Linked DNA regions of Homo sapiens: region 1 is linked to region 2. The links come from fine-mapping of genetic effects on gene expression. A gene starts in region 2. The other region holds a variant in brackets. All regions are shown on one strand. Distances are between the middles of the regions. Region 1 overlaps LRRC1 (leucine rich repeat containing 1). Region 2 holds the start of LRRC1 (leucine rich repeat containing 1).

Region 1 (4,000 bases), 39 kb before region 2:
AAAACTTTTTAAAGTTTTAGACTACTTACTAATTAGGAAGGAAAATACCAATTACCACTAAGGACATCCAATTATTTAATTCATCAAAGTTAATAATATTAAAGAGCAATGGCATTAGATCTAGAGGAGGAGGGAGAAGCGACCATTATAACCAAAACAACAATGATAATGATAATAATACAGCAGTTAACCTCTACTGAGGGACACTATATGTTTGGCAGTAAGCCAAACACTTTACATGGATTATACTCTTTAATCATCTCAAGGTTGCCGCAATACTGATACCTACGCATATAAGTTAGCTTTTACTGAATAACAAACCATCCCAAATTTGGTGGCTCAAAACTACATGGATTTTTATTCCTCACGTTTCTGTGCGTTGGTTAGGTAATTCCGCTGCTGCTCTCATCTGGACTCATGCATCTACATTTGGCTAGTGTCAGAAGGGCTGGAAGATCCATGCTGGCCTCACTGCTATGTCTAGCAGTTAGTGCCAGCTGCCAGCTAGAGCTCCTCTGTGCTCCACAAGGCCTCTGTCCTCCTCCCTTAAGCTAGAGTGGCTTTCTTATATGAAGCTCCCAGAGAGCATTCAAAAAGGGCAACGGCAAAAGCTGCAAGGACTCTTGGGGCCTAAGCTTGAAATTTGCCTGATGTTGTCCTTTCTGCCAATGGAAATTGGTCAAAGCAAGTCACAAAGTCGGCCCATATTTAAGGGAGTAGAGAAATCATCTTCATTTATAGATGGAAGGAATGGCAAAAATCATGTTAAAAAGAGGGAGAGGGTGGGAAAAAATTGGTAGATTAAATGAGGTAGAAACCTCAGATATGCCACAGAACACACATGAAAACTGGGTAGATTATGTACAAAATTCTATGGTTGATTATAGAGTAATGACTTTTCTAAAGCAAATCAGAAGAGAAAATAATACACTGAATAAACTTTGGCTAAGATTCTTTATATATGAAAAGGATATAGACAAAAAGAAAAGGCCAAGAAATAGTCACAGAATACTGAAAGAACTAGTTTGGTTAAAGCAGATAATTCAAACAATCATATCCCACATCCAGAATTTGAGTTTGAAAGGGTTTTAGCAAACACTCATAAATAAGTATTAGTTAAATAAGCGTGAATGAGACACTTTTTGTCAGTGTGTTTGGTAGAGGTGTGGAATAGGAATATCTCTGGGTGAATCACTTAACTTCTCTGGTCCTCTTGTTTTCTTGTGAAAAAATAGCATTAAATGATAAAGGGCTCTTTGTAGCTCTAAAAATTATAGAATTGCATTTCAAAATACCTTCCCTGTGCCAAAAGAAAAATGAAAATCCTGTTAGCACACAATATAACATTAAGCATGAAGTTAAAATGCATAAAATTACAGAAAGTAGATTAGCAGTTGCCTAGGAAATGGAAAACGATGGCTAAAGGATATGGGGTTTCTTTTGGGTGATGAAAATATTCTAAAATTGATTGCGGTAATGGTTGCACAACTGTGACTTTATTAAAAACCAGAGAATTGCGCACTTGGGTGAATTGTATGGTATGTGAATTATATCTTAATAAAGATGTCAAAAATGCACAGAATTGGTAGACATTAATGAAGAAGGAATTCCTATTAGTAAGAAAAGACTGGGCTGGGGATACACAGATACTTTTATTTATTTATTTTTATTATTATTATTTTTTGAGACGGAGTCTCGCTCTGTCGCCCAGGCTGGAGTGCAGTGGCATGATCTCGGCTCACTGCAACCTCCGCCTCCCGGGTTCACACCATTCTCCTGCCTCAGCGTCCCGAGTAGCTGGGACTACCGGTGTGTGCCACCATTTTTTGTATGTTTAGTAGAGATGGGGTTTCACCATGTTAGCCAGGATGG[C/T]CTCGATCTCCTGACCTCGTGATCCGCCTGCCTCGGCCTCCCAAAGTGCTGGTATTATAGGCACAGATACTTTTATTTAACTGAATCTCTATAACCAAGTGAGGTAGAGTTTTTTTTATCTCTAGTTAACAGATAAGGAAACTGAAGACCAGCAACTTTACTGGCTTCCCTGATACTGCAGACCAGTTAATAATATTCTTTAGGAAAAATTCCCAAACAGAGCCATGCTGGAGGATCACACAGTAGAAATCCTCAGATAACTACCTGCTAAACAAAAAACACTGGTGTGAAACTACATTCTAATCAGCTAACCAAAACTAAGTCATGCTGGAGGTGGAGGCGGGAGGGTAAGCTAGGAAAGAAATAACTACTAAAATTACCAATGCTGTCAGATTCCATCTTGATTGACAAGTTGCGAGCGGAAGAAAAGAGCATGCTAATGAAACCTACATGTGAGAGCACATAAGTGGGGTTGCTGCCAAACCAATCCAGACAGAGAGAGTAGACATGCAAGAAATCTAGACAGATAAGAATGAATCAACTTCTAGAGGATCAGGGGCACAGAGATATAACAAACATCCCGATAAAGCCTTGGGCAAGGGAAGGCTGAAAGAAACAGGGAAAGCAGAAGACAAAATTTGATACAAGTTTATAATACGATACAGCAAAAGGGCATACAAAGAAAAAAGGCTCAGCTAGGTCTAGTTTCTGAAGGCAATAGGGGAGGTATCACAGAGCAGCAGGACAGTCCTGGAGAAACTCAAAAGGATGACACTGTTCAACTGGCAATTAGAATTTTACTAATGCTGAACAATTTTCATAGACACAGAATGGAATTCCAGAGAATCACAAATACTTAAGAATTTGAAATACTGATTGACAAAATAGTTTATATTCATGTACTAATAGGCCAGGTGATAGACAATAAATATGAAATAAGATAAAGGGTTCAATCTCTAAATAAAACTAACCATTTATTCTATAATCTGAAGAGATATTTCTCCCTGCCCATCTATTTGCCCAGAAGACAAATACATGAAAGAGATCACAGGGGGAAAAAAGGCCTCTCCTGCTCTAAAATATAATTTTTAATAGGTTCATGTTTCAGAGGCACAAGTACCCTTTTCTTTATGCAACAAAGGAAAGAGTGCTGACTCCTTTCCTTGCATGACCAAATTTCAGAGAAGCAAATTAGTTTCCACTGAGTGTTAGCATGTGTGTGCTTGAGCATTTATAATAAAGATGCTTACATTTATTTTGTTCAAAATATTTATCTTTCTAATTTTTCTGGCCTCCCCTAATACCTTTATCCTCTCATTTGCTGGTATATTTTAATGTTTCCAAGGTGCTTTCATGCATTATTAAGCTGTCACCATTAATGATCCTAAACAAAGATATAAATGCCCCAAGGTTGCCCCCCATAATTAAAATAGCTCAAGGGTGAATCACTTTGAAAACCAAGAAACCAGGCATGTTTTCTGTATTGTGCTATGATCAGAAGGGTGGATCAGACTGGTAGTGGCAACTGCAATCACTTGGAGAAAAGAAGCTTTTACTAAAAGCAAAATGGATCAGGACAGCATTACTTTACTGGTAACTTGACTGAAGGGATGAGCTGTTGACATGGGAGGACCAGACTGATGGTGCAGATGGAGAACTGATGAGAGCTGGACCAAGCAGGGTTGGTACCTCAGAGGGAAAGATCAACTATGAGGAGAGAAAAAAGATATCGAACTGAAACTAACAATAGGGGAATGATTAAACACAGGATGGCAAATGCATACAATGAACTATTATATGGCCATTAAAAATCATGTTTCTGGAGAATATTTAATAATATAATAAACACTATGTTTTAGGGTTAAGGGAAAAAAGAAATGTAAAATTGTATATATGTACAGTATAAGTCCTATTTTATTAAAAAATGTAATAGAAATTTTAGGGAGAAAAACTGTTTTAAAAAGGTAAATCTGCTGAGAAAAAAAGGAACTTAGGCCAGATGACAGAGGATCATTCAACTTCTTGGTATTGATGTTTTGTACGACAGAAAATCAAAGATTCTACTCATCTAGAAAGGGTTGTTTTTCCTGCACATTTTAACCAAATGTATCATCAAGTAAAACTTGAA
Region 2 (4,500 bases):
CAGAGGTGAGACAACAGATAGCCCAAGGAAAGAATGGAAGGGATGGAACAGATATCTATGTTTGCAAGGTGGTTCTCATGTCTGGCATGTACACACCCAGGCACCAAGACACACAATAAGTCAGGGAGAAGTAGATTTTACACAACCTAAAAACTTTAATACTAATTTAACAGCTGTTAGAGCAATAATAATCCATTAGCAAGATCACCTGTAACCTTTGAAAAGCTTGTTTATTTACCATATTTACAGAGTGCCATCAGACTATATTTTGAGATTCTGACAAGTTTCCATTTAGGATCACAGAAAGACCTGACATTTCGGCTTGGCATGGGAAATTATGTAATTTCCCATGCCAAGCTGAATTCCCCAACATTACAGGAAAACCCACAAACCCTGCAGAAGGGAGTGAAAAGCCAATCCAGTCAAAGGAAATCTTCCAGTTCTACAAAAGAAAACAAAAAAACAAATACCACAAAGAGCAATGAATCATTTCTAGTGAATAACTTTTCACTCCATCTTCAATAATGTCATCCTGAAGCCCCTGAAAACTATTAAATTACATATTCTATATTCCTGGTGATATCACTGCCTAAAATTACACAACTTAAAGCAGTGAGGGAGCTGACGACTGGTAAGAAATCTTCAAGGACGTAAAAGGCCAGAAAAAAATCATGTGTTTGAAAATGCCTGCGAAATAATAAACGCCTGAGGGAACTTGATGGCTTTGCTGCTTCTAAGCTAAATAAAGCCTGGGGGGCTTTGCAAAGGTCCTAGTGAGGATAATCTCCATGATTACACAGAGCAAACATCCAATCAATTCCACATGAACCCAGGAAAGTTAATCCAAGAAGAACACCACCACTTAAAATATTGAGAAAAACACACAGTTCTTATTGTTTAAATGCTCCATCAGCGCTGGAGAACGTATCAGGTCATTCTAACAAGTCAGAACACTTGACTAGTGTTTCTGTGACAATGATTTGGCTTGTGTTAACTAAAGGGCAACAAGAAGTTTGCGTTCCAAAGCTCAGGCCTAAAACAGGTCCAATCCCCGACTGCCAGCAGTCTCCCTACTTCCTGCACACCTTTGGATTATTGCACACCGACTTCCTGCACACACCTGGGTTTGAGACACCTTCCCCGAGGGGTTACTCTAGCTAAGTTCCCGAGGCAAGCTTGAAAGAAGTTCGCTGTACCCCTACTCTCGGTCAAAGCACCATCAGCACATGTCGCTTGACAAGTTCGGCGGCAATGGAGTGATCAATTTACATAAACAACTCTGAAGAGATAACGCATCACTGCAAGGAGAGAAAGTCAGCAGGACGACTGTGCCCGCTCCGGGAAAGGCGGCTGCAAGGCTGGCCCGCGGGCAGAGCCTCCGCTGACGTTCACCGCAGCTCCCACCACGCAACAGGTCCACGTAGGCAAGGCCCGGGCGGCCGGCATCTGGGCACCTGCCCCTAGCGCTCCAGGCCCAGCTCTCCCCTGCGCCCATCTCGCGTCCACCCCCGCAGCCACCGCAGGCCAGCCGGCCAAGCCCACCCGCGATAAAGCACGGAGCACATTCCTCATTCCTCCCAAGATGCCGAGATAGTGCGGCCCGCTTGAGCGCTGCCCAGGTCACAAGGTCCTCCGGGACATGCCTTGACTAAAGGAGAGGCGCGCCCGGCCCTTGGTGGGGGAACGACCCCGGGGAGTGGAGGGGGGGAGGATGCAGTGCTCTGTAGCTTCCAGATGGAAACAGCCCGAATCACCCGGCTTCTCACCTGACCGGGCACAAGTGCCAGGTGTCAGTACCTAGCATGGATCTAAGTTACTTAACAGTCCAGAACGCTTCTCCAATAGCACGAGCCCCAGTGACTACGCGCAAAATATCCGGTCACTTTGAATAAAATGAAAAGGAACTTTTACTGGGAAAGGATGGAAGTAAAGAGACAGGGGGAGAAAGAAGCAGGTGAATGCATAAAAGAGGGAAGGTTCCTTCACGCCGGACCCGGAGATGGAAGAGGGGACGAGAGAGGATGGGAGCGGAAGGGACAGCAGACGAGCGGGCAGAGCGCTCAGGTGAGGCCGGACCCTTACCTCGGGCAGCTCGCGGAGCTGGTTGGCGTCCAGCAGCAGCTCCTCCAGGCTCCGGGCATAGCGGTAGATCTCCTCGGGGACGTAGACCAGCGAGCAGTGGCGCTTGTCGATGCTCTCCACATGACGGTTGCACCGCCACAGGGGGATGCAGTGGAACATCGCCGCCCCCGCCGCCGCCTAGCCGGGTCCCGAGCGGCGGAGACCCGGGCTCCGAGCCCGCTCTGGCCGGCGGCTCCGCTCAGTCCGCTGCCCTCTCCGCGCTCGTTGTTGGCTCTTGGGTTAGCTCGCTTCTCGCGCCGGGCTTCGCGGTCGGAAGTGCTTCAAGGAACCTGGAGCGGGAGCCCCTGCCCCGTCCCTGTACCCCCGCCCGCCAGCCGGTGCCTCCACTCCCACCCGCCAGTCGCCGTCGCCGCCCCCGCCGCCGCGCGGAGCTTCCTACTCGCAGCCGCCGCGCGGACTGAGCATGCGCGCCAGTGGGTGCGCGCCGAGGGCGTTTCCCGGCCCGAGGGATGCTCCGCTCCGGGTTTTCCCGGCGACCTGCATCCAGAGAGGGTCGACTGACCTGCGGGCCGGCTGCTGGCGGTCTGCTTACTCCGGCAAAGACGGGGGCGCATCGGGCCGTTTGAGGAAGGCAGACTGTGAAAGGACTTGGGACAAAGATGAGGCGGAGTAGAGGCGGCCTGAGCAGAGCAGAACAACTTTGATATTTAGTTTTATTTAACTCGCACTCCTCTCCTTGCTCCCCTTCCCCAAAACAACTTTCTCTTCCGGGGTCACACAGGACCGCCCCAAAGCGTACCTTGCGCGCCGGGGGCGCCAGGCGCTACTGGATTCGGTGTAGTTTTGAGGTGTTTGCACCACCCTCGCTGCTGCTTTCGTGGCTGCCCGTGTGCCCGCTGCTCACGGCTGCCCCAGAAGTGTGAGCTGGCCGCGCCCGGCCCTCTGGTCCTCGGGCACCGCCTGCAGGCTTTGTAACTTGGGAGCACATCTCTGGTGATCATGGTTTATGCAGTGAGTGATAGTAAATCCTCCTCCCTGTACCAGCAAAGGCATAGGAGTCTGAGAGTCTGCGAGATTCTCATAGATGTGGTTGCACCTGGCAAGGAGCCCAGCTGCAGAAATAAGCAGGCAAACGCGAGTTTCTGAGCCAGTTCCAGCCCGGCCCAGATGTTGGCCCCTGACAACTAGCTGTGGCTGGTGCGGAGGGAGGAGCGAGGGAAGAGGGGCAGATCGAGGCTGCCAGGTGAGCATCCTCCATACAGCTCCTGCTTTTCTGCTACAACCCCAGTCCCGTCCAGCCCGGATGACCGGGGAGGCTCACTATTGGGTTATAACAACCATTCCCTCGCCCCGACTCATTCCTGCGGACCACGGCCGGAATCCTGAACTGCCCCTCTTTGCCTGTAACTGTTTGCAACACAGTCCCCATCTCCGAATAACCAAATTTTCTCCTTTAATGAAGGGTTGCTAAAGTCAAGGTCAATCACAATGATGAATCATTTCCTTGGGGGCTTCTCTGATTCCCCACCCGGCCGCCCCTTCGTTCCACACTTTCCCTTTCAAGCATACTCAAACTCCAGGTTTCCACCTGCGGCCGCTGCCACGCTGGCTCTCCCACACTCACTCCCGCCCTCCAGCTGCTATAGCTAAAATCTGGAGCCACGGAGTTCACTTTTCTATAGAAGACAAAGCTGAGCATGCTCAGTGGCCAAGGCAAAGTTTGGTCGGAAACTAGTTTTTGCATTAGACTCTCCATGGGCTCCATAGACTCTCCTGTACCTTACGACTAGGCACAGGAGCGTTTCCCCGGTGAAATGGAGAAGAGGACACTTGGTCTTTTCAACTTTACTAGGAGGGCTCCTTTCTTCCCAGTCCGTAAGGAGGGGTCTGACTTTCATTTCCACCCCAGCATTATCACCTTAACTCTCATTCCAGTCAATCCCGAAACTCCGTTGCCCTACCCACTTCACCCTTCTTTTGTTTGTCCTGATTTGATTCCTGCGTTCTCACAGAGGGCTACCTGGACTTTGAACCTCCACCCCCCTTTCTACATTCTTGCATTCCAGAAACATATGAAGCTCATTTCTGCCACCCTTCCTAGAAAACTGGTTCCTGACAGAGACATGTGGAAAGGTAAGTAAGTCCCTGTCTTCAAGTTTTCCAACTGCTTTTTAAAAAAAAAATTAAAGAAGGCTAGTTCCCTCCATTTAAAATAATGTGATTTCCAGAGGTTATCACACTAGATTATTTTAACGAACACCAAATGTATTTTAAAGACGTGTCCAGTCTTTTAAAAATTCAGACCTCAATAAGCATTCCTTGTGTGCCTCTCCATGATGCTTCAGCTTCTCTGTGTTATTATTTTTGTATCACCTTAATCCGAAAGAGATTATGACCTCTTAAACAACAGATACTGTC

What was found. PIP is the estimated chance that this variant, and not a neighbour inherited with it, causes the effect.
Region 1: its variant is fine-mapped to the expression of LRRC1 in lymphoblastoid cells (GTEx, PIP 0.94).

The regions. Positions count from the first base shown.
Region 1 is chr6:53,832,646-53,836,645 of GRCh38, reverse strand. All of the region lies in intron 1 of LRRC1 (leucine rich repeat containing 1), which reads right to left. Among named protein-coding and RNA genes, the nearest start is that of LRRC1, 40 kb to the right of the region's middle. The variant C/T (reference allele first, on the strand shown) is at 1,873.
Region 2 is chr6:53,792,998-53,797,497 of GRCh38, reverse strand. It overlaps LRRC1 (leucine rich repeat containing 1), which reads right to left and starts at 2,493. Exons shown (of 14, transcript NM_018214.5): 1 at 2,083-2,493. The coding sequence starts at 2,241. It overlaps LOC124901333 (a long non-coding RNA gene), which reads left to right and starts at 3,823. Exons shown (of 5, transcript XR_007059619.1): 1 at 3,823-3,957; 2 at 4,149-4,215. RefSeq lists an enhancer at 1,709-2,421 and silencers at 2,388-2,627, 3,673-3,802.